Homo sapiens: one gene and its partner. The protein of the gene in region 1 interacts with the protein of each later gene in a pairwise test. Each region holds a gene or a part of one and is shown on either strand. Other genes may lie near its edges.

Region 1 (3,914 bases):
GCCAAAGTTAATGGCCTGAGTCATAGCAGAAGGGTGTCTGGGTCACCGTCTGTGTGTGGTGCCCATCTTGTTTTGCTTTTGCACACTCAGAATCCAGTGTGACTTTTTCGCCAGACCCATTTAAGTGTCTGTCTTCCTCTGCCTTGGTCTTTCTCAGCAGTGTCCCAGTGCCTGCTGTCTGGACTGCTGCATCTGTACCAGATGTGGGAGGGATGACAGTGAAGAAACACATACATACACACACACACTCTTTCTCTTTCCCCTTCATTCAAGTGTACACAGCTACCTCCCTCAGGTCTCCCAATGGTTAAGTGGGTTCTTAATGCAAGAAACTAGGACCATTGTGTACCTCACTTGGCAAAGCTAGGTTGGGACCTGCAGGGTTATTGGAGCAGAATCAGTATTGTTTGGGGTGGCCTGGGATTTGATATCTGAAGTGGGGAGCAGGGCTGTCCTTTGCTTTGGGGGAGTCTCATAAAGAAAAATGGAGACGAGAAGTAACGTTCATTGTGGCCAGTGTCTCTCCAGCATTACCATGGCAACAATCCCCACGGGTGTCACTATGGAAATCAGGCCTGGCACTTGAAGTTCAGCTTATACCAAGTGCTTTACTGAGGGTTGAACAGGTTGGTCATCTTTGGACCCCTGATCTTAAACCCCCAGCCCCAATTAGCTTCAGTCAGCACACATGATAGAAAAGTACAGAAAGGTGCTGGGATACACAAATGGAAGAGGAGACACCAGGGAGGCTCGGAGTGTGATTAAATTAAAAGAGAACAAAGAACCCTGGACTGTGGGACTCTGAAGAGAGGCCCTTCAGAGAAGGCTATAAGGAGCACTTAGACTGCTGGGGGTGGGAGAGAGATTGGATTTCGGCGACATTTCTAAGAGGAGGAGGGACTCTGTGACTATTTCTCATTAACAACTCACAGAGTCTTCGATTACCTGGAGGTAGAGAGGGTGGGTGGCAGAATTACATACTTCTGAAAATGGGATTGAGGTTGGAAAAAGGGAGTGATGAAAGGCTTTAGTTCTGTCTGGAAATACTTGGAAAAATGCCCAAATGTGAGGAGGGGGGATATGGAGTAGGGGAAGAAAAAGCCTTGATAAGGCTCTGACACAGTGTTGGCATTTCAGTTCTTGGATCACTTTGCAGTGTGGGTCTGGAATCAGATTGCTTGAATTTGAAACTGTGCTCTACCATTTCTCAGCCATGTGACTGTGGGGAAGCTACCTGACCTCTTTGAGCCTGTTTCGTCATCTATAAAGTGGTAATAATAATAGTATCTATGTCCTAGGATTACTGTGAACATTAAATGAGATAATGCATATAAACTGCTTTGTAACATGGCAGGCACACAGTAAACCCTCAATAAGAGTTAGATATTATCACTATTTTATATGCTATCTCCCCACAAGCTAGCTTTGACAAAATTGGGAAGTGGGTAACACTTTTCCTTTTTACTAATTGTTTCATGCAAACCTCCAGATCCCAAGTATCTTCTTGCTCCCTTCCTTGTCAATATCTATGTTTAGTCAACAAATATTTATGAAGAGCATCTGTCATAGTCCTCTATATGTTGCTATAAAGGAATACCCCAGGCTGGGTAATTTATAAAGAAAAGAGATATATTTGGCTAACAGTTCTGCAGGCTGTACAAGAAGCATGGCACCAGCATCTGCTCTGATGAGGGCCTCAGGAAGCTTCCAGTCATGGTGGGAGGCAAAGAGGGAGCAGGAATCACATGGCGAGAGAGGGAAAAAGAGGGAGAGCAAGAGGTGCCAAGCTCTTTTTAACAGCCAGCTCTCACATGAACTCATAAAGCGATAACTCACTCATTACCATGGGGAAGGCACCAAGCCACTCATCAGGGATTTACCTCCTTGAGCCAAGCACTTCCCACCATGCCCCACCTCCAACAATGGGGATCAAATGTCAACATGAGATTTGGAGGGGACAAACATCCAAACTACATCAGCATCCTATAGGCCAGGGACTGTGTTTGGTGTTGGGGATTTAAAGGGAATCCCTGCCTTCAAGAAAATCTGGATCAAGGTTGTGATCCATAGCCCATGGAGTGGCCTGCGCAGAGGCAGGGGAGAGGAACATCAGATATGGCTTTTGCTAACTATCTATATACTCCCCCAGATTCTGATAAGGAACCTCCCACAACATACTACAGTCTGATTCAGAGTATTGTGTGTTATGAGAGCTGTAAATAATGGTGGTGCTTCCCATGTCTATGGGCAGGAAAAGTGGAAGACCACTGGTCTAGTTATTTTCATGAAAAGATCACTTTTCTCTAGGCACATTGCCCATGGGTTAGCCCTGCTGTACAAGGAGCAGTAATGAAAAAAAAATCAGGCAAAATTAATTCATCCTGAGTATAATCAATAGAAAATTAAAAGAAATGTACAAAACTTAGCCGAGCATGGTGGTGGCTGCCTGTAGTCCCAGCTACTCAGGAGGCTGATGCAGGAGAATTGCTTGAACCTGGGAGGCGGAGGTTGCAGTGAGCCGAGATCTTGCCACTGCACTCCAGCCTGGGCAACAGAGCAAGACTCCGTCTCAAAAATAAATAAATAAATAAAAATTAAAAAAACAAATTGGCTGGGCACGGTGGCTCACGCCTATAATCTCAGCACTTTGGGAGACAGAGGCGGGTGGATAACAAGGTCAGGAGTTCGACACCAGCATGGCCAACATGGTGAAACCCTGTCTGTACTGAAAATATAAAAATTAGCCGGGCGTGGTGGTGGGCGCCTGTAATCCCAGCTACTCGGAAGGCTGAGGCAGGAGAATCGCTTGAACCTGGGAGGCGAAGGTTGCAGTGAGCCAAGATCATGCTGCTGCACTCCAGCCTGGGCGAAAGAGTGAAACTCTATCTCAAAAAAAAAAAAAAAAGAAAAAGAAAGAAAGAAAAAAAAGAAAAAACAAATTTACATTTTAAAAGGAATAAACAACTTAAAGACATAAAGAGCCAGGCTTGGAATTTTAGAGCCCAGCCAAGAATACAGAAGTAGGTAGCAGGCCTTCCCAGAACTCCTGAAATCATATCTCATGTCACATGGCTTTCCCTGCTCAGGAGATTACTAAATGCACCAATTTTTAGCTCTTGGGTATCTTTTTTTTTTTTCAGACGGAGTCTCGCTCTGTCACCCAGGCTGGAGTGCAGTGGCGCGATCTCGGCTCACTGGAAACTCCGCCTTCCGGGTTCACGCCATTCTTCTGCCTCAGCCTCCCAAGCAGCTGGGACTACAGGCGCCTGCCACCACGCCCGGCTAATTTTTTGTATTTTTAGTGGAGACGGGGTTTCACCGTGTTAGCCAGGATGGTCTCGATCTCCTGACCTCGTGATCCACCCGCCTCGGCCTCCCAAAGTGCTGGGATTACAGATGTGAGCCACCGCGCCCAGCCCACTCTTGGGTATCTTTTAGACTCAGATCTGAGAATCTCTTCCTTCTTCCCTCTCTGCTCTTTTCTTTCTTCCCAGCCTAGACTGATGTAAAGGGGTTCCTGATGAAAAGGGGCTATAATTGGCTTCAGCATTTGGAGAGCGCTCTCCATTTTAATGCGTCTGTGGAGCCTTCTAGATCCTGTAACTGGGAATGTTTTGAGGGAGTGTGTGTGGGGGCTGGGGTGGGGTGGTTGGTGTGTTGGTGCCCATGTGTTTGTGGGGGGAGGGGAGGGGCAAGATTGGCTTGAGAGTTACATTTAATCCCCTTTGGCTGGGTGCCTGGCTTCATGAAGCATGGATAGAGATTGTTGGTGGGAAAGAGATGAGAAAGCCAGTCTCATCTTTTCACATTTTTCTGCCTGTTTTATATTCTGGCTGCACTGGCAGTTGATTAAATGATGCCCACCCAGATTAAGGGTGGATCTGCCTTTCCCAGTCCACTGACTCATATGTTAA
Region 2 (3,914 bases), on another chromosome or scaffold:
CAAAATGAAAATGTTCCAGGAATGTTAAATGCAGGATGCTCTTAATATTCTACCTGTCATCTCAAGAAAAACAGTAGCATAGCTCTTACATAGTGTGGTGTGGAATGAAAACTCCTAGATTCATTAATACCTAACTTGATGCAAATTAAGGAGTTGTGGCTTGATTCCAGAGGAGGCTCTCATTAGGGTGGGACTGTCTTGTTTTTAAAACATGTCTTCCCGTAATAAATATGCTTTATTAGCTGACCTAGGATATGTGGCTATGAGCATACCTGTCCTTACCACATACCATGCAGCCTGCTGGTAAGGGTCCCAGCTATTCAAAATGCTTGTTGCTACAAATTGTATTGATTTTACAGTAACCTACCACATTTCAAAAAACTGCAGTCTGAGACAACCCAGGACCCTGGCTGGGTGTGGTGGTTGAGAGGAACAGGAAAAATAATTGCCCTAAAAGCTGGTTTTAGGGCTAATTAGGAGGTACAGGTTACCTGAGGGAAGGGATGATTAGGGAGAGAACCAAAGCAGTGAGGTGTGGAGCCTGCCACCATCTTAAGAAGTGAGTAGTGACACGTGGTGAGGAGAAAGACCCTTGCAGAACTTCTAGTCTTAGCAAACTAGGTTGAGAAATTCCTTTTCTTTTCTTTCTTTTTTTTTGAGGCAGAGTCTCACTGCGTTGCCCAGGCTGGAGTCCTGTGGCATGATTCTGACTCACTCCAACCTCCACCTCCCGGGTTCAAACAATTCTGTTGCCTCAGCCTCCTGAGTAGCTGGGATTACAGACGCCCACCACCATGCCTGGCTAATTTTTGTATTTTTAGTAGAGACGGGGTTTCACCTTGTTGGCCAGGCTGGTCTTGAACTGCTGACCTCAAGTGATCCACCCACCTCGGCCTCCCAAAGTGCTGGGATTACAGGTGTAAGCCACTGTGCCCAGCCAAAGTTCCTTTTCTTTTTGGAATCTGTTCCCTCCATTGCACCTGAAGGACTCTTGTAAAATGCCGTTCCAGGTCCTCCTCGTGGTCCTTCAGCTCAGTTCATGTCCCTGAGTGGCTTCACAGGGCCTCTGCACCAGGCCCCGAGTGTCTCTCTGGCCTCAGGCTCCTGCTGTCCTACATTTCTTTTGATCCCTTGCAGGGGACTCTGTGGGTCCTGGACCTTGTGTGGACTTTCATTTTCTTTTTTTCTTTTTTTTGAGACGGAGTCTGGCTCTGTCGCCAGGCTGGAGTGCAGTGGTACGATCTCGGCTCACTGCAATCTCTGTTTCCTGCTTCAAGTGATTCTCCTGCCTCAGCCTCCCCAGTAGTTGGGACTATAGGCGAGCACCACCACACCCAGCTAATTTTTGTATTTTTAGTGGAGACAGGGTTTCACCATGTTGGCCAGGATGGTCTCGATCTTCTGACCTTGTGATTTGTCCGCCTCAGCCTCCCAAAGTGCTGGGATTACAGGTGTGAGCCACCACACCCAGCCGTGTGGACTTTCTTATGTTTGGCATGTGCATCCGAAATGTCCCCTTGCCCAACTCTTCTGTAAGCCTGGTCCCCATCTAGGTATGATTCCTCCAGGAAGGGTTCCCTGCCACTCCTGCTCCCTCCCGGATTGTGGATTAGGTACCAAGCCTGAGTGCTTCCTTAGTACCTGCATGGTGTCATCTTTACCTGTCTGTCCACACAGCCAGACTAAGTTCTGAGAGGATCTGGCTGGCTTCTGCCCTGCACAGCACGTGTAGTAGACATCAAATATTTCTTAAGTGGATGATTCAAATCTGGGCTGCTAGTCAATTCTGACATCTCCCAAGTGTGGAGTTGAGTGGATGAGGCTGATGAGGAGGCTGTCTGTGAGGTGACATGGTGGCCTTTCTTTCTCTCTTGAAGGTGATTAGAATGACTGGTTTCATGAAGGGCCTCTACACAGACGCCGAGATGAAGTCTGATAATGTGAAGGTGGGTTTGAGTCGGGCTTCTCCTATTGACTCCTCGCCTTAACGGATGGGATTTTTTGTAGGCCTGGTAGTGTGGCTTGTGTCATTTCTCTGCTGCATGTGGTTGGAATACAAGGTCAGTGAATTCGTAAATTGATATATATACCCTTTCTCATTTCATTTTCTCATTGTGGCAACTGGATGTCATGCTAGTTTTATTCACTGAAAAATGGGATTAGTATTTCAAAGGTTAATGCTAGCCCATCAACTAAATTAAAGGCTTTAATGAATTGTTTTTGTTTTGTCAGTAAAAGGTCAGTATTTCTAGATTTGTTATATATCTAAAAACAGCTTTGTATGTAAACAGAAACTATCCTATGCCTGGTAAACATACAGAAGATAATGCACACTCTTCAAAGTATTGTAATATTTGTATTTTCAATGGAAATGTTTCAGGATAAAGATGCAAAAATTAGCTTCCTACAAAAGGCCATAGACGTGGTTGTAATGGTGTCGGGAGAGCCACTGTTGGCCAAACCAGCCCGAATCGTGGCGGGGCATGAGCCTGAAAGAACAAACGAGCTGCTCCAGATAATTGGAAAATGCTGTCTCAACAAGGTACTACTGCTGTCCTGGCATTTTGAACTTACTTAGTACTTGAGTAAAAAGTAGTCGGGGGTGAGGGACTCACATGTGCGGGCGGTTTAGGGAAGGAGTTTCAGTGGTGTCTGTCAAACACTGTGCTTTGAATCTGATCCCACCCCTTCTGGAGCCCCAGAGATACAGAAGGAGTAATTTAATACTGAATGATAAAACAAATAAGGGTATGTAATACGCAAGTTCTGCAAGCTTTCAGTAGAAAGTCGGGAACCCTGCAGGCACACTGTGCCTGGCTGGAGGCTGGAGGCTGCAGGCCCAGGCTTCCATGCCCTCTGGCTTTCTCCTTTCTGAGGCTCCCTTGAGGACAGGTGGCTGCTTCCAGCCAGGGCTGCAGTGGCTGCAGGAGCTGCTTTTCTTCTTCCCTGGGTCTTATGGGAGTCTCTGTTCTCTTCCTCCATCTCCAGCCTCTGGTGTCTGCTTGCCTGTTGCCCTTCCTCTCTCTCTTCCACCTTTTCTCTCTCTCTCGGTTGCTGTTTCAGTTGTACGGGGAGTAGATTTTTTCTTTCTTGAGCTTTTCACTGTGGGCTAGAAACTTGGGTGTCAAGGCCTCAGGCTTCTCTAGTTAGGTCCAGCCTGGGCCATGTTTGCCCAAATGTTGGAGAAGGTCTTTCCCCAGGGTCTTCCTTCTTTTGAGGGCCGAGTAGTGCCCTGTGGAGGAGCAGGTTGGACTTGTATTGAGAGTGTAATTAATACAGTTTTTCACATACCTAGTGGGTGGTTGGCTGGGGGCTAACCTTAAATGTGACCCAAATGGGAACAGGTAGGTTTCAGCCCCCTCAACAGCAGTGGGTAGTGGAGGTGCATAGTGGTATCAGGCCGACTCCTAGGAGGCCCCCCCAGTGCAGGTCCAGCATGCAAACTTAGAGACTTGGAAGCAGATCTTGCCAGTACACTGGCCTCTGTCCCTAGGCTCCCCAGCTCCCCTTCCCGGGTCCTTTATGTTTCTCATCTTTCTAAAAAGCACATCTGGCTCCTGTCTCCTCTGCTGAATCATCTCCGGCTTCCAGTAGCCTCGGGTCTGGGCCAGCTCCATGGCACAGCTTGTGAGGCTCCTAGAGACCTGCTGCTACTTCTCTCCCTTCAGATCCTTCTCTCGTTTCCCATATCTGAGCCCTCCATTCCAGTCGCCACGCACCCCTGCATTCGGCCCTGGCCGGCTGTCTCCCGTCGGCCTCTTGCCCTGGTGCCTGCTGGCTTCTTGGTACCTGAGCTGCCTTCCTCCTCCAGCCTCACCCAGCAACAATGTGGCGTCTGTGAGTGCTTCCTTGAGCCTGGGCCTCTCCTCCCTCCCAGGCTGACTTAGGTGCCCCTGTAGGCTTCCTATAGGCTG

What was found.
Region 2: the proteins of KIF5A (region 1) and TRAF3IP1 interact in a two-hybrid assay, tested with the Homo sapiens proteins (2 studies listed by IntAct).

The regions. Positions count from the first base shown.
Region 1 is NC_000012.12:57,553,020-57,556,933, forward strand, and holds part of KIF5A (kinesin heavy chain isoform 5A), read left to right. Parts: intron 1-3,914. UniProt on the Homo sapiens protein: Microtubule-dependent motor required for slow axonal transport of neurofilament proteins (NFH, NFM and NFL). Can induce formation of neurite-like membrane protrusions in non-neuronal cells in a ZFYVE27-dependent manner.
Region 2 is NC_000002.12:238,323,429-238,327,342, forward strand, and holds part of TRAF3IP1 (TRAF3-interacting protein 1), read left to right. Parts: intron 1-1,877; coding exon 1,878-1,946; intron 1,947-2,380; coding exon 2,381-2,542; intron 2,543-3,914.